Linked DNA regions of Homo sapiens. The protein of the gene in region 1 interacts with the protein of each later gene in a pairwise test. Each region holds a gene or a part of one and is shown on either strand. Other genes may lie near its edges. The genes, in order: RASA1, MLH3, PTPRJ, BMPR1A and DCC.

Evidence for each region.
Region 2: the proteins of RASA1 (region 1) and MLH3 interact in a two-hybrid assay, tested with the Homo sapiens proteins (one large-scale study listed by BioGRID and IntAct).
Region 3: the proteins of RASA1 (region 1) and PTPRJ interact in a two-hybrid assay, tested with the Homo sapiens proteins (one large-scale study listed by BioGRID and IntAct).
Region 4: the proteins of RASA1 (region 1) and BMPR1A interact in a two-hybrid assay, tested with the Homo sapiens proteins (one large-scale study listed by BioGRID and IntAct).
Region 5: the proteins of RASA1 (region 1) and DCC interact in a two-hybrid assay, tested with the Homo sapiens proteins (one large-scale study listed by BioGRID and IntAct).

What each region holds. Positions count from the first base shown.
Region 1 is NC_000005.10:87,379,381-87,382,900, reverse strand, and holds part of RASA1 (ras GTPase-activating protein 1), read right to left. Parts: intron 3,167-3,520; coding exon 3,051-3,166; intron 2,393-3,050; coding exon 2,306-2,392; intron 1-2,305. UniProt on the Homo sapiens protein: Inhibitory regulator of the Ras-cyclic AMP pathway. Stimulates the GTPase of normal but not oncogenic Ras p21; this stimulation may be further increased in the presence of NCK1.
Region 2 is NC_000014.9:75,027,450-75,030,969, forward strand, and holds part of MLH3 (DNA mismatch repair protein Mlh3), read right to left. Parts: intron 3,267-3,520; coding exon of another isoform or gene 3,254-3,266; coding exon 3,094-3,253; exon of another isoform or gene 3,093-3,093; intron 1-3,092. UniProt on the Homo sapiens protein: Probably involved in the repair of mismatches in DNA.
Region 3 is NC_000011.10:48,130,539-48,134,058, reverse strand, and holds part of PTPRJ (receptor-type tyrosine-protein phosphatase eta isoform 1 precursor), read right to left. Parts: coding exon 3,343-3,520; intron 2,549-3,342; coding exon of another isoform or gene 2,544-2,548; exon of another isoform or gene 1,339-2,543; intron 1-1,338. UniProt on the Homo sapiens protein: Tyrosine phosphatase which dephosphorylates or contributes to the dephosphorylation of CTNND1, FLT3, PDGFRB, MET, KDR, LYN, SRC, MAPK1, MAPK3, EGFR, TJP1, OCLN, PIK3R1 and PIK3R2. Plays a role in cell adhesion, migration, proliferation and differentiation.
Region 4 is NC_000010.11:86,889,113-86,892,632, forward strand, and holds part of BMPR1A (bone morphogenetic protein receptor type-1A isoform 3 precursor), read left to right. Parts: intron 1-949; coding exon 950-1,112; intron 1,113-3,014; coding exon 3,015-3,117; intron 3,118-3,520. UniProt on the Homo sapiens protein: On ligand binding, forms a receptor complex consisting of two type II and two type I transmembrane serine/threonine kinases.
Region 5 is NC_000018.10:52,343,193-52,346,712, forward strand, and holds part of DCC (netrin receptor DCC), read left to right. Parts: intron 1-3,520. UniProt on the Homo sapiens protein: Receptor for netrin required for axon guidance. Mediates axon attraction of neuronal growth cones in the developing nervous system upon ligand binding. Its association with UNC5 proteins may trigger signaling for axon repulsion.

The DNA.
Region 1 (3,520 bases):
TACGGTGCCCAGGACAATTTCAAATTCCTGGCCTCAAGCAATCCTCCTGTCTTGGTCTAAACATGTTGAGATTACAGGCTTGAGCCACCATGCCCAGCCTGAAAAACTTTTAAGACAAGACATTAGGAATTCTAAAGTTTTAAAAAGTTGTCAAATTATAAAACAATAGCAAAAGCAAAAATTATACTAACAGCTGTCATATATGATTTTATCTGCTAATTTTACTTTGGGACAATGTCAGTGTTAAAAGCTTGCATAGATACTCCTATTCTGCCTCCTTTAGTCACTGGTAGGGAGGATATGTTGTCATGTAGATAATTTCTAATTTCCTTTTAAGAAGAATCCACACTAATAATTAACCTCTTACTTGCCCCATGTAAAGACAAGCATTATTCCTAAAATAATGAATTATGCAATTCCTTCTACAGATTGATAGACATAATCCATGTAAAGACAAGCATTATTCCCAAAATAATGAGTTACGCAATTCCTTCTATAGATTAATAGATACAATCTCTGTTCTCTGTTAGAGTGGATTACCCAATTTCTTAGCATTTACCTTTGAACATGTACCTGTTTGCTAATTTTTGGACTCTTAGAAAGTAAAGATGTTACTTCTCAAACAGCATTTATAGAAATTCTAATATATTGGCTGGGCATGGTGGCTCATGCCTGTAATCCAACACTTTGGGAGGCCGAGGTGGGTGTACCACCTGAGGCCAGGAGTTCAAGACCAGCCTGGCCAACATGGTCTAACCCCATCTCTACTAAAAATACAAAAATAGCCAGGTATGGTGGTGCATGCCTGTAATCCAGCTACTTGGGTGGATGAAGCACAAGAATCTCACTTGAACCTGGGAGGCGGGGGTTGCAGTAAGCCGAAATCACACCACTGCACTCCAGCATGGGCAACAGAGCAAGACCCTGTCTCAAAAAAATAACAATTAAGTCTTTAATTTTGGACTTCCCAAATTTAAAGAATCTTGTAAACTTTACTTGAAAATATTGTGATAATTATACATAGTAGGTCTATGAGCCTGAAACCTAACCTTGGCAAAAATGCCCTAAAACACCCTCTTGCACGAAACAGTTTACAATTTCCTGCTGTGTTTGCTTAACAGTTATACTTGTTTGAAACTTACAAATTTATAGAACAGTTTTAATTTACATCTCACACGTAACTGTGCTGGAATATTATGCTTGTAATTCTTTTCTATTCCTCCCAATCACCACTAATGCCAAGAAAAACAGAATCTGTAGTTCTTAAATATTATGTCATATCATAACCAAGAGAAATATTACCTGCCCCCCAAAAAAAGAAATAGAAGCCCCTTGACAAAATTTAGGTTGGAGGCAGGATTAACACATTTTCAAAACAAACTGTGTAATAATGGTGTTAATGGTTGCCTAATTATTTTACATATAGCATGACATGACAGTGTATATTCTAAATAACAAATTATATTATTAGAAAACTGCTGTATTCCATGACGCTTTCGCATTAAACTTCCATTTGCCTGGAATTAGTTGGGGTATTAGTTGGAGTATGCTTAACAAAAGCAAAAGCCTACAATAAGACTCAAGGATATCAGATTGGGTCTTAGAAAGTTACCTTTAGTTCTGCCTTAGCCACCAGCTTTCTATAAAACCTTAGTTCAACTTAACCTCTCCAGACAGATCTGCTTCTTCATTGGAAAAATAAGTTAGAATAATGATAATGAAGTAACCTTACGTAAGCTCCCAAATTCCATGATTTGCCAAAGCAGTTCTTCCTATAGAATAATGATAATGAAGTCCCTTTATATAAGCTCCCAAATTCCATGATTTGCCAAAGCAGTTCTTCCTAATTATGGTACAATGAGCAGACTGAAACACAGCTTCAGAACTACATGTTCTGGTTCTGATTAGCTCAGAGTCACAGATTGTAACAAACCAATTAATATCTAAATCGGTCAATTACTGCCCTTCTCTCTCACTGCCAATCAATGTGTGTGTATGTATGAAGAATACTATATGAAGTTAGCTACAGATTTTGTTATATAACTTTTAGCCTCATCTTGTAAGGGTTTAAAAATCCCCAATACTTGACTATAAATGAATGTTCATGTTTTTAGAAAATGCAAACGGCAGCTAAATCTCACAGTAACTTTCAGTTTAGGAGCCATCTGGACTTAGAAAATATGCAACAGGGCTTTGACATAAAAGCCAAAGAAAAAAGCATTGAATTGTATATTGTTATTCCTCAATTTTTCACAATTATCCACCTATTAGTATGTGATTTAACAAATCAATTGATGAGCCTTACCTAACAACTCTTGTTCTCATGGTGGTATTTGTAGGCCACTTATGCTGAACAGATTTCTGTAAACACCCATAAATATATCTCAATGTCCTGCCAAAATAACACAATCATCTCAACACAGAAAGCAAGTGAAAACACTGATCTCCTAGCAGCCAAAAGCTTAATTTACCCAAATATACCACAGTTCAATAAAACTGGCCTTTTACCCAAAAAAGTATTTTGCCACAGGTAATGAGGCATTTAGCAAGGGGTAAGGAAAACTTTATCCACTAAGTTTATCATCAATTTATTCAGTCAACTTCCTGACATTTACTTTCAGATATAGAGAACCAACCAGCTGCAAATTCTGGGGAGCAAGATTTAGACTTAAGTTAACTTCTACCTGAACAAGTGAGTTCACTAATACTGGAGGCCGACAAGCATATTAACAGAGTGATTAGTCTATCAAGTATAGACTAAATGGATAGACAAGATATCTTTTACAATCTCAAATCTGAAACTATAAACCTCTATTCACTCCCCAAGCTACTACAGTACAAACCAGACATATTGGCTTGTACGAAAATAATGGGTGGTTTTATTAAGACAGCTATTTTCTTTAAATACAATTCATCTCATAAAGATTAACCATGACTTTTTCAGAGTATAATAATATTAGGACAACAGAAAAGCTTTCACGTTTTAGAAATAGAAATTTCTGAAGACATAGATACACAATTTCTTGTCAAATGAAAATTTCACCACTTACGGTGGAAGTATTTCTGAAGCCATGAATATTTTCTCCACAAGCTCTGAAAGTATGTTCAATAGGTGTGTTAAATTAGTGTTCACATCTTCATTTTTTTCTAACTTTGATGGACTTAACTAAAAGAAGGAATAAATCAATATAAATGCATGTTGGCAATGACAAATGCAAATGAATAGAGGAAAACAAGTAGTTATAGTTTTCGAGGTTGTCTATTTTTCGGTATCTCTGTGTGTATTGATCTTTTTTCTTTGTATAATGGGAGTTTTTAAGTAGTTTTCTCTATGGAACTCCTCCTGGTAGGTCTGTTACCATTTATTCCCAATTAGCCAACTGAAAAGCAAACAGTGCTTAGTCAATTCTATTTATTTGAGGGGAAAAAAAGCTGATTAAAAGCTTTTCTGAATGAGGCTTATTTAATGGCTAATAAAAATATCAAATGCCTTAGGCAGAATCACAAACCTTTCTCAGAA
Region 2 (3,520 bases), on another chromosome or scaffold:
GGGTTTCACCACGTTGGCCAGGCTGGTCTCAAAACTCCTGACCTCAGGTGATCTGCCCGCCTTGGCCTCCCAAAGTGCTGGGATTACAGGCATGAGCCACCATGCCTGGCCCACGGACTCTTACTAAAATAACTTCTATTTATTTTTATATTTTTGTATTTTTTGTCTCAAGATCTGTTTGTGGATAAAAGATCTTGTAAGAGATTTACTTCAGTAAAAAAAAAAAAAAAAAAAAAAAAAAAAAACCCAAAAGAACACAGAATAAGTAGGATGCAAGAGGCAATGGTGAACAAAGACTCTGGTGAACACTTTTTTTAATCTAAATAAAGATTGACTATAAAATAAATGACCACCAGGGAATTAAAAACAAGGTGGAATTAAAGTACTAGACAGCAACATGGAAGATGGGAGGAGGGTGATGGGAGATGAACAGTTTGTAAGATTTTGGTACAGTTAGGAAGAGGATAGAGAAGTGAATTACTTTTAAACTTTGATAAGTATGCATGCTAAAAGTTAAGGCTAATCTCTAAAAGGATATAAATGGAATATATAACTTCTAAACGAGTAGAGCAAAAAAAAAAAGAGAAATACAGAAAACTATAATAGAAAACAGGAAAGGAGAGGAAAAAGACAATAAAGACAAAATAAATGATATTTGCTATAAAAAAAGAAACATATAAGTAATCAAAATAAAAAGTAATAGTTCTCTCTAATACCTCCAATGCCACAGCCCAGCAGTAGCTTTCCAAACCTTTACCAAAACATATATGTAAAGTAATCATATTTGGAATGCAATCTAAAATGGACCTTACTCTCCTGCTTAAAAGTTTTCACTGGCTGCCTATAGGATAAAATGCAAACTACTTAGTAGAATATGCTAAATTATTTTATGATTTGACCTTGACAACCCATCTAGCCAACTCCCATCCAGTCAAAGATCCAAGTATAACTTCTGATTTCCCCCCAATTTTTTTTTTTTTTTTTTTGAGACGGAGTCTTACTGTGTCACTCAGGCTGGAGTGCAGTGCAGTGATCTTGGATCACTGCAACCTCCACCTTCCGGGTTCAAGCAATTCTCATGCCTCAGCCTCCCAAGTAGCTGGGATTACAGGCACATACCATCATGCCTGGCTAATTTTTTAATTTTTAGTAGAGACGGGGTCTCATCATGTTGGCCAGGCTGGTCTTGAACTCCAGACCTCAAATGATCCGCCCGCCTTGGCCTCCCAAAATGCTGGGATTACAGGCGTGAGCCACTGCACCTGGCCTGATTTCCCCAAATCTTAACTACCAATAGCCTAACGTTGATCAGAAGCATTACCAATAATATAAACAGTTGATTAACACATATTTTGTGTGTTGTATATATTACACACTGTATTCTTACAATTAAGTAAGCTAGAGAAAAGAAAATGTTGGCCAGGCGTAGTGGCTCATGCCTGTAATCCCAGCACTTTGGGAGGCCAAGGCAGGTGGATCATTTGAGGTCAGGAGTTCAATACCAGCTTGGCCAACATGGTGAGACCCCATCTCTACTAAAAATACAAAAATTAGCCGGGGCATGGTGGTGTGCGCCTGTAATCCCAGCTACTTGGGAGGCTGAGGTAGGAGAATCGCTTTAACCCGGGAGGTGGAGGTTGCAGTGAGCTGAGATTGTGCCATTGCACTCCAGCCTGGGCATCGCAAAAAAAAAAAAAAAAGAAAGAAAGAAAGAAAGAAAGAAAAAGAAAATGTTAAGAAAATCATAAGAAACAGAAAATATATTTATTATTCATTAAGTGGAAATGAATCATCATAAAGGTCTTCACCCTCATCATTTTCACATTGAATAGGCTAAGGAGGAGGAAGAAGAGGAAAGGTTGGTCTTGCTGTCTCAGGAATGGCAGAGGTGAAAGAAAATCTGCATTTAAGTGTACCTGCGCAGTTCAGACCCAAGTTATCCAAGGATCAACTGTAGATCTTAATTTGAGCCATATCTATTGATAGTTCCCTAAACATAGGATGTATCTCAAGTCTCTGATATGTATTCCTCTGTCTAGAATGCCCTTCTCCCCTCTTCTGTACTCAGCACTTTCCCACTATTCTTTTTTTCTTTTTTTTTTTGAGACAGAGTTTCACTCTTGTTGCCCAGGCTGGAGTACAATGGTGCAATCTTGGCTCAATGCAACCTCCGCCTCCCAGGTTCAAGCCATTCTCCTGCCTCAGCCTCCTGAGTAGCTGGGATTATAGGCATGCACCACCACGCCCGGCTAATTTTCTATTTTTAGTAGAGATGGGGTTTTTCCATGCTTGTCAGGCTGGTCTCGAACTCCCGACCTCAGGTGAACCACCCACCACGGCCTCCCAAAGTGCTGGCATTACAGGTGTGAGCCACCTTGCCCAGCCTAGTTTCCCACTATTCTGTAAGACTTTTCTGGCTGTGTGCAGTGGCTCATGCCTGTAGTGCCGGGGGTTTGGGAAGCCAATGCAAGGGGATTGCTTGAGGCCAGAAGTTCAGGACCAGCCTGGGCAACATAGTGAGGCCCCCATCTCTACAAAAAAAAAAAAGGAAAAAATTAGCCAGGCATGGTGGTGCGTGTCTGTAGTCCGAGTTACTTGGGAGGCTGAGGCAGGAAGATTGCTTGTGCCCAGGAGATCAAGGCTACAGTGAGCTATGATTGCACCACTGCACTCCAGCTTGGGCAACAGAGTGAGACCTGGTCTCTCAAAAGTAAAAACTTTTCTTAAGAAAACAGCTTTTCTGTGACATTTTCATTGACTTCACCTCCCCAGGCACACAAGTCATTCTGTGTTTCCATAACACTTCTGAAAAACTATCTTGGTGCATTCTAGACTCTTAGTTTTCATTACCTTTATCACTGGGAAGAAAGCAAAACACATACCTCTACTAGCCAAAGTTCACTGACTATAATTCTTTAAATGCCCTTCTTCCTTATTTTGAGCTAACTCATCTCTGAATTTCTAGCTCCTGGCACACCGCAGGTAAATACCATGAATACTTGTTGAAGAAAAGATGAATTCAGAGAATCTACAGACAAAATATGAGGTTACCATCACTCAGCAATTTCCTTAACATCTGCAGCTGTGTCTTACCTCCACAATACTCTTGGTCACAGTAGATCTTCCTCTCCGAAGTTCATTGGCTTCTCTTTCCACAAAACATAGTGGTACTTTTCCCACAAGGACCAGAGAATCACTAGTGTCTGGAAATACAAATTCAAGGCCCAGATCTTCCAGATTTTTGTGGTAACACCTAAAGAGATAACCTCAAATGTTAAAAAAAAAAAGAGTGCTACTTCATTTGCACTTCACTACTGGTTCCAAATACTACTTAATAGTTTTTCAAAAGCTGCCACAGGGCTTAACAACCGTATTGTTTTTCTCACACTTATGTGTGGGTGTTTGGGATTTTTTATTATCAAATTTCCTTTTTGAATTACAGTAACCTTTATTGTTTTTCTCTTTTCCATTGGGAATCAATCTGTGTCTAAGTCTTGTTTCTAAGTGTGTTTTCTTCATT
Region 3 (3,520 bases), on another chromosome or scaffold:
TCAATATTCACAATGTTGTGTAACTATCACCACTACCTGTACCCAAAACACTGTCATTATCCCCAGCATAAACTGTAGCCATTAAACAATAATGCCCACTCCCTCCTCTGAACAGCCCCTGGTAACCTCTATTCTAATTTCTGTAGAATATTAAGTTGCCTAATCTAGGTACTCATGTAAGTGGAATCATCCAGTATTTGTCCTTCTGTGTCTGGCTTCACTTAGCATAATGTCCTCAAGATCCATCCATGTTGTACCATAAATCAGAATTTCTTTCTTTCTTATGGCTGAATAGTATTTTGTTGTATGGATGAACCACATTTTATCTATCCATTCATTTGTTGATGGGATCTTGGGTCCACCTTTGGCTACTGTGAACAATGCTACTACTATGAACACTGATGTACAAATAACTGTCCAGGGGCCTGTTTTCAATTCTTTTGGAGATATACATAGGACTGGAATTACTGGATCATATGGTATTCGTTTCCTTTTTTTGAAATTGCTTTTAATGCTGTTAAGCTGACTTTTTCCAATAACAATAAAGGTTATTTGATAATAGAAAGGTAACCCCCCTAAGAGTTTAGATCTTATAGCAAGCCTTCTTGACTTTCATTCAATGGGACCATTGAATGAAACGGGTCCTTTGAGACAATGCAATTCCAGGCAGGTGTTAAAATTACCCTGTAGAAATACTGATATTAAGAGGAAAGAATATTCACAATAAACTATAGTAAAAGAGATGCCCTCTCCTCACTAATACTAAACTTTACTGCTGTACCACATCAAAGTGTCAATCTACATGGTGGTTAAGCACTTGGTCTTAGACAGCAGACACAGGTCAGTTTGCCACCTTGTCACTCTGGGCCAGTTACTTAAGTTTGCAGAGCCCCCATTTCTTACTCTGTAAGACAGAAATGATAATAATACCTGCTCCATGAAGTTGTGTTAAAAATGTAAAATGCAGTATGAGAGCACTCAGCACTTCGCAGACCCCCAGCATATTATATTATTGTTACAGTAAGTTCTGGGCAATAGCAAGTAGCACAACATCATGCATCTCCCTCAGTGGTGATCCTCTTACCATTATCCACATCCTTAAAAGACAGAAGAAACATGTTGACGTTAAGACGTCATGTCAACAGTCTGAAATGCAGATTTGCAAAGGGAATACTGCATTTCATCTGAGGGATGCATTTTAGTAGATCCCTTATTTCAGAAGCAGATCCTCTGAGTGACTATCGGTGCTTAACCCAACCAGCACAGTTGAAGAAGCTTCTTCAAGGAGAATCTCAAAAGCGTAACTCATTTCATGTGTGTTTCAAGGAATCTGTCCCATTTCTTTTATATATATATATATGTTTTTATTATACTTTAAGTTCTAGGGTACATGTGCACAACGTGCAGGTTTGTTACATATGTATACATGTGCCATGTTGGTGTGCTGCACCCATTAACTCATCATTTACATTAGGTATATCTTTATTCTACCCTCTGTATAAAAGATTTCAACTATCTTGAATCTTAGATCAAGGAAGACTGTATGTTTTTCAACCTTTCCAAAAAACAATTATTTCAAAATTTTAAAACAACAATAATGAACATTACTCTCTAGGATTTCCCAGAAGTTTCTCCTGTAGGCCTAGAAATAATTTAATAATTTAAACTGTTTCTATAAAAAAAAATTTTTTTTTGAGACAGGGTCTCCCAGGCTGGTGCTAGTCTGCAACTGTTGGGCCAAGCAATCCTCCTGCCGCAGCCTCTCAAGTAGCTGGGACGATGGGTGCAGGCCACCGTAGCTGACTATAAAATGATTTTATCAATTTCAATTAGCCTTCTAGAACTAACAAAGTATCTCATCACAGTGTTGTTTAGGAAAGACTGTGAACAGTCCACCTGCCCAACACAGCACAGTAGTTAATTTCTAACACATCTTGACCAGAGGTTCTTAAACTTTTTGCTCTCAGGACTTCTTTACCATCTTAAAAGTTATTAAGGCTCTCAGAGAATTTGTATTTACATAGGTTATATTTATTAATATTTACTATATCAGGGATTTAAAATGAAGAAATTTTTAAAATGTAAGAATCCACAGCATATATTCCATTAGACCTGAGAGACAATGTCATCCCATATCGGATCAAAGTTGGAAAACTCCAAAAGAGAATGAGAATGAAAAAGCCAAATAACATTTTAGTATTGTTATGATAATACTACCTTGGAGACCCCTTGAAAGAACCTAGGGATCCCTAGAGAGCCCTGGACCACAATTTGAAAACCACTGATCTAGCCCAGAGGTCAGCAAACATTCTCTGTAATGGCCAGAAAATAAATATCTCAGGCTTCACAAGCCACACGTTCTCTGCTGCCACTACTCAATTCTAGCACCAAAGTAGCCATAGACAGTACATAAGCAAATGAACATGGCTGTGATCCAATAAAACTTTATTTACAAAAACAGACAATGAGCCAAATTTGGCATAGGGGCCATTCTTATCTGCCAACTCTGTTTCAGATGATGGAATTCCAGGCAGGTGTTCAAATCATCCTGTAGAAATATTTTATTAAGAGGAAAGAATATTCATAATTAATTGGCAAGTTGGGGAAAAGGCAGATTACAAAACCACATGTACAGATGGCCTCAATGTTTGTGAAAGAAATAAATATATATTTGTGGGCTGGGTGCAGTGGCGCACACCTGTAATCCAAGCACTTTGGGAGGCTGAGGTGGGCAGATCATTTGAGATCAGGAGATCAAGACCAGCCTGGCCAATATGGCGAAACCCTGTCTCTACTAAAACTATAAAAATTAGCCAGGCATGGTGGTGCACACCTGTAATTCCAATTACTCAGGAGGCTGAGGCACAAGAATCGCTTCACTTGAACCCAGGAGATGGAGGTTGCAGTGAGCCAAGATCATGCCACTGCACTCCAGCCTGGGTGACAGGGTAAGACTGTCTCAAAAAAAAAAAAAAAAAAAAAAAAAAATATATATATATATATATATGTGTGTGTGTGTGTGTGTGTATTAAATATTAAATATATATGTATTAAATATATGTATACTCACACATATATTTGTGTATCTATATGTATATGTTTAAAAATTGTAAAATGTCATACATCAAAAGTGATTATCTCTGCTTGATGGTTTCCATGTAAGTTTTTTCTACTTACTTGTCTGTATTTCATATAATAAATAAGCATTAGTGTTATGAAAATTTTTAAAGTTTTTTCTTAGATAATTAAAAGAAAAACAATATTTGGAAACATTATGTTTATTAATTATACTGATTTCCTTTAAGAAACATGATGGTTTAACAGAAAAGCCTATTTGCTTACCAGTTCTATTGCAAACTGTCCGAGATGCCCCTTCAGTCCCATTTGGTCCTTTTGGAACTATTTCAAAGCAATACTTGGTTCCAGGGAACAAGCCACCAATGATAATACTTTGGTTGGTGGTTATTTCTACCCGAGAATTGCCAGCTCCCTCCTGTGTGATATGCATCTGAAATGATTC
Region 4 (3,520 bases), on another chromosome or scaffold:
GGAAGTAATTACTAGAACAGTTTTTTTAGTTCCGTTCTGCTTCCAGCCTGAAAGATTTAGTACCAAATATGACAGTATCTGTCACTGCAGGCTGCTAGACTCTAGTGTAAGAACATAGTTCTATTTCTGTGAGCTAACTGCTGCCCTTCTATAACCTTCAGTTTCTGCCAGCATCGTCTGCATTCAAACCAATGACCTCGAGGTGAAAATCTCCAGATAACATGATTGGTCCCCATGCTCTCATGATTTCCTTACTTAAGCAATTAAAGGCCAAAGCAAGATGCTTAGTAACTCCTTTTCCACATAGAGGCACAAATAAAGGAAAGCTGGTCACAAGTTTTGAACCAAAGAGTTAAAAGAAGAATCATAACTTGTCTCTATTTAATGATTGGAAACTCTCACAGACTTCTGTGAAGTCTCTCCCCCTTTTGTACCTTTCTTACAAGTGATGACTATATACTTTTACCTGGCAGGGGAGAGACCACGGTCACGAAGGTGGTTTTCCCAGGGCGAGGCTTATTCATTGCACTCCAGATGTGCTGACCCCTGCGATTTCCCCAAATGTGGGAAACTCAACTGCATAATTGTGGTGGTGGGGGACTGCGTTCATGCTTTTCCCTGGTTAAATTAAAAAATTTTTAAGTTATTTTAAAAATATAAAAAACAAGATTTGACTGTATTCTGCCTTGCGCCACTCTTGTTTGTCTTTCACTAGTGCAAAAATTGTGATATAGCTGTCTTCATGTACCCCGCAATACCTGGTGCAGTAATTCTGTGCATAATAATGTATGTCTGTTTGTTGTATGAATGAAATTTATATTTCTAAAGAAACATGCTAGCTACAATTATTGTGATAAGAAAGCTTAACAACTTTTTCTCATTGAAAATTGTCACGAAACAATGAGCTTTTCAGAAATGATTTACTTACAAATTCCATATTTGAATGCAGGACAGAATCTGGATAGTATGCTTCATGGCACTGGGATGAAATCAGACTCCGACCAGAAAAAGTCAGAAAATGGAGTAACCTTAGCACCAGAGGATACCTTGCCTTTTTTAAAGTGCTATTGCTCAGGGCACTGTCCAGATGATGCTATTAATAACACATGCATGTAAGTATTTTATGCAGCCCTTCTTAAGAGTTAGGAGAATAGAGTTGCATTTAGTGCTATTTTAAGAATTATTAAACTTGTCTGCGGTTTTTTTTTCATTCATATATAGTATCTTTCCAGAAAGCCAAAAAGCCTTTTGTTTTGTATATTAGAACATTATTCCATTAAATGATTGATAGGTGAGTTACTATATTAGAATTATGTTATAATGCAGCTTTTAAAATAAGATCAAAGGGATCTAGTATTTAACATCTGAGTTTTTAATGATCTTTTAATCTTAAATTTATTGATGCTCATTTTAGAAAACTTAGAGGTTACCAAAAAAGAAATCAGAAAACTCACTGACAACCTCCTACTTCTTTTTAATTTAAAAAAAAATTTTTTTTTTAACTATAGACAGGATCTTGCTATGTTGCCCAGGCTGGTCTCAAACTCCTGGGCTCAAGCAGTCCTTCCACCTCAGCCTCCCAAAGTGCTGGGATTACTAGGGTGAGCTGCCACACCTGGCCTCCTACTTCTTAATTAGTTGAAATATTTTGCAGATATATATAAATCATATTGTGTTAATTAATTTTATGCTTTTTTCTTACCTGTGAATTTACCAATCCAAATCTGATTTATAAAATGATTTTAATTTTTCTAGTGTATTTCGTGTTAGCTGCACAACATGTTTATATATGATCATGTAATTCTAGTCCATATTTGTTGGAAACATTGACATATTGACTTAATAAGACCAAAAAAAATTGCCTGAACAACTCAACCTCATCAGTCAATTAATTGTCTCCTTGTTATAGAGGCAATAATGAATGTCATGTTTTATACTTTTAATAATTGTATGTTCCCTGAATGGACCAGATAGAAAGCATGAAACTTTACACGTAAACTCTTGAACCTGCATGACGGTCATCGTGTCTTAGGTTTGCTGCTTGTCCCCTGGTGGTGGTGGGCTCTGCGTGGCTGACTGTGACTAGTTGTTCATTTTTACCTTGGTGAGAGTTTGCCAGCAGGGAACTGCTCTCTGCTATGTCACCAAATAATGTTTTGCTAAACTTCTTGTCTGTAGTACCTGCCTGATGTAATGGGCTGTCTGTTAGTAGCTTAGTAACCCAGAGTAAAACTGAATCATCCATTTTAACAGAATTCTGCCCCACACTTAACATTTTCTCCTAACAGAAAACCAAGAATTCTGCAAAATTCTTCTAAGTAGAAGCAGCACAATTCCTGATATTAACAATAAATAGGAGTACAGAAAAAGCTTTTAGAAATTTCTCCCATACCTGTTAAAGTCTATATGAATATATTAAGGGGAAACTCCAGGATGCTAACACTAAAATAAGAATTTCATTATATATGTATGTAAATTTATTGAAAATTTATTCAAAAGTCCTCTCCCTGTTTTCCCATCATATTCAGTAAAAGGTGCCTTTTAGTCCCCTTTTTTTTGGTCATTAAGCCTATTTGTATGTTTCAGAGAAAAGTTTGTTTTTATCTATTATCATATACAATATGGAAGTACTGAAAAAATGGGTAAAAAGAGACAAAGTTATTTTAAAGTATGTTTTCAAAACATGACATAAAATTTTATAAATCAGCTTTCTGTGATCACATGACTGATTAGCAAAGAGAAGTCACATAACTCCTATGTGGAGGACTTGTTTAATTGAAATCCTTTTCTTCTTGACAAAGGGTTGTCACTGGCCTTTTAGATCTTGGCTCAGACATAACTTTCATTTGTCTTAAAACCTCTGGCGTTGCCAATAAATCACGTGTGAATGCAATTCTAAGTCACAAAACAAAGTATTAAAGGCCATCTGTACCTGTTCACATTCAGACTCAAATTTCGTTAGTACTTTCTATGTGAATTTATGTTTTGTTTTGTTTTGTTTTTTTCTGTTTTAGAACTAATGGACATTGCTTTGCCATCATAGAAGAAGATGACCAGGGAGAAACCACATTAGCTTCAGGGTGTATGAAATATGAAGGATCTGATTTTCAGTGCAAAGTAAGATATAATTTGGGACCCATGAGACAAAGAAGGGAGGGGCCATATGAAAGCATCGATTTCCCCCAGGAGAAACATGCCTGGTGTACACATCGCTGTATGTTCACATCAGTAAATATATTGGAGGAATACCTACTGTCTAGATTCTGTCCTGTATTCATATGTAGAATTTATAACTAAATCATTTCTGAAAAGCTAATTGTTTGATTACAATTTCCTTTTTTATTTCCATAGACAGCACCTGGCTCTGTTGCCCAGGCTGGAGTGCAGTGCTGCGATCTCCGCTCACTGCAACCTCAAGCCAGCCTCCTGCCTCAGCCTTCTGAATAGCTGAGACTACAGGTGCATGCCACTATACCTGGCTAATTTTTGTATTTTTTGTAGAGACAAGGTTTTACCATGT
Region 5 (3,520 bases), on another chromosome or scaffold:
AGTATCACTTCTTTCTCTTAGTAATAATTTCCCCTGTTTAGGAACATGGCAGGAAACTTACAACGAGAAAGCATAGTTCACTCTATAAAAGGACCAGTAGGAGGTGCCCTTAATAAGGCCAAGTGTCTAGTTTACTGGCAGAGAAATTCCCATTCAGCCGGGTGTTTTAAAGACTTTGTTGATTGGTAACAAAGGATTATGGAGACTAGCACAATAGCACTGGGCCCTTTCCCACTTTCTAGGTAAAGTCTGAAGCTGCTGTAGATTTGTATGAAACTGTGATGATTTAACAAAGGACAGCCCTGAAAAGTGTCAGTAGAGAGTGAGGACTTGATGTTGGGGGAGGAGGATGGTGACTTTTTAGTTGGCTTCTGTAAGATGTCATCTTCTTATATATTTGACATGAGCCACAGGCACAGGAACCTTATAGAGTCTCAGGGGATCTCAGATAAGATAACAATTTTGGATGTTGGATGTTAATGAGTGAAAAATGAGGCATACATATTAATTAATTCTTCATACATGTTTGGGTTCCATTGCATTGAAAAAAATCTGTGAGTGTTTAATGTAGTCTGGATATGCTGAAATGAGGCTGGTCGCCCTCCCTAGGCGACCTCTTCTCATTCCCCCAACCAAAGCAGATCAGATGCCCCCATGTGGGTTTGCTTTTGAGTGGCGGGAGTATGGCAGAGCCTGAGGGCTCGGGGTAGGCTGGCAGTCCACTCCTCTGTGAGTGCCGCAGTATAAATCACCAGTACCTGTCAGTGTCCATTTCCCACACAGCAGCAGCTGCCCTCTGAGTTATAAAGCATGGGAAACGGCCACCACATGTGTTATATGTGAATATATTAGGCTTAGTGCCTTTGCTTTAATGCTCTTAAAAGCCAGGCTGGCTTGAGATGCTGATAGGCATTTTTTTCTGGGGAGAGATTTATAACTTCTCAGTGTGTATGACTTAAATTTATTCTCTGGCAAGTTAACCTCTTAGCAAACTTCCTTATTGTTTTCATTGAAGAGGAAGAGCCTTAATCCTACCTAAATTCCTGAATGAAGCTCTGCTGAAAGTTTCTGCTAGAGTACAGGATATTTGCAGGCTGTAGTATGGTTTCCTAAACCAATGGGAAGCTTGACAAGATATATGGGGAGGTGATTTTTTGGTGGGGAGGCGGGGATATTTTTACTTGTTTTTAGAGAGGGAAGTTGTGATACTGCATCTTCTAAAGGAATTCTAGCAACTCAGTTATCTCAAAAGCATCTTTAATGAGAGGAAATGTTTCTCGCTTCCAGTTTCATACATCTAACAGTCTGGGATTCTTCAAATGCATATAATATGCTCCTGGAATGTTTGCAGCTGCACGCAGTAGGGTCATCTAGCAGGATCACTGTCATTTGGAAATGAGCCCTGATTTAAATTTTGACTTGCAGACAAAACACTTATCTTTACCTGGTGCGGCATGTTTAAAAGCAGTGCTGAAGTTTCTGAACAGAATATTTCTTTCCATGGGAGACTGTGCCCTAAGATTACATTTTAAAGTAAGTGTTCTTACCATTTCTTTGGAGAATTTGCCATCCCAAACTTTGCATGTGAAACTTCTTCTTCATGATTCTACCAGTAAAGATAACTATTTAAAGAGAATGCAGTTGTTTCCGGGTATTTCTTTAAAATTAAAATTCAATGTCCACATCCACACACAAACAAGGAGGATTTCCACCCCCTCATACCTTCTCCTTCAAATAGCTGACTTTGGTGTGAATTATGATAGCTCTAATTACATAAGGGCACTTGCAATTTCCCTAGAGAATGAGTTCTTGCCTGATTACAGATCTTCCTACTTTCCATAGGAAGTTTCTGGCCCACACTACTATCAGAAACTTGCACCAAATTGGGAACACATTGCTCTGTTTTGGTATTTGCTACCCAGCTATACATTTTTGAAGGATTAATCTACCTCAGATGATAATCTCTTAGATGAACTATATACATAAATTTCAAGAAATCTTAGCTTTGCCTGAGGCCAAAGAATAATGTCACAAACCTGCTGAAATTACTTGATTAATTGATTGATTAACTAAGGATAAAAAGTCACTTGGTTCTGGAAAAGTACTGTACTCCCTAAAGAGTTCTAAAGAGGAATAGTAAATACTATGCACATTTACAATTCATAAAATGTAAACGTCAAGTCTTCTTCCCCCTCTTTTTCCATTCCTTCCTTATAATGCTCTGGAGGAAAATTTAAGAGTTTCATGAGTTGTCACAACAGTTATATCTTAAGGAATCATAGCTTGGAATCTCACTAACTCATGATTAATAGACACTCAATTAAATAGCAACACAATGTCCGGTGAATTTTTCGGCAGCCTGCTGTGGGCTGCTTGCTTGTTTTCAGCTCGTTTCTAAGGAATCAAAACTCTCATCTCTAAGAGGTGTGGCATCAATACTGCCTCCCTTGACGCAGCCCAAGAAAGCCTTTCTCACTCTGAAACCAAGGCTGTGACCCACAGGCACTGTGTTTAATATGCTGTGTTCCACTTTGCAAGGTCAGGGGGATTTGCCTTAAAAATAAATTTTTAAATGTTCATGCATGCTGCTTTTGGTGGAGAGTTAAACTGTACTCTAAAAGCAGCTAAATAGTGTTGTTATCTTAAGACATTCTAACTTGTGGCCTCTCAGCCAATATTATTGAAGTTCTAGAGCTCACAATCTTTAAGAGAGACAGGAGTGAGCTCTATAAGATAATAGGTTATGCCAACCTAGTTAAGCTACTTTTTTCCCCAAAATGGTGTTACCAGGTTGGAATAATAGAACGTTAACCTTTTTCAAAGTTACTACTTTTCAGAGGAAAAAACATTTCTTAATAATATCATAATATCAGTAGCATGGGACTGACCCAATGTATTTAAGATATTGTTCTTCAAAACAAGATATCAAGGAAAGCCAGTGTTAAACTTGTCAAGAAGAAAGGATGAACAATCCAGATTATTTTCCCTGCAGGCCAATAAAAAATGTGCAAGATAGAATTACATGTTGCATATGCCAAATAGGTAATAGCAAAAAATAAAATGTAAAGTATTATGCACCTTTATCATTGCAGGACTCAGGTAAATGAAACACAATTTAGTAACACACTTTTTCTTTCTCTCACTCTAGAATGTTAATTCCTTATCTTATATTTCTCTGGTTTAACTCCAAACTAAGATGGAGAAATACAGGTTGGCTGACTGATGATCAAAATTATTATAGTGCTCCAAAGTTATTTGACAAATTTTAGCCTGAGGTTTAACAACTAAATCCCTTTAATTCAACTATTAAGTGAAAGTGTTTTCTTTGGTAGTTTAGAAATACCTGAGCTTTGTCCCAATGGTGTGGTTTAGAAATACATAATAATGCATAAGATTGAATATGCCTTCTTTTTCAATATTGATGGGAATTTGCCAATGGTAATACCAGTGCATATTGCTCTTTTATTAATAGTTCCAAACAACCATATTATTCACAGCTTTCATTTCTTGGGGGGAAAAG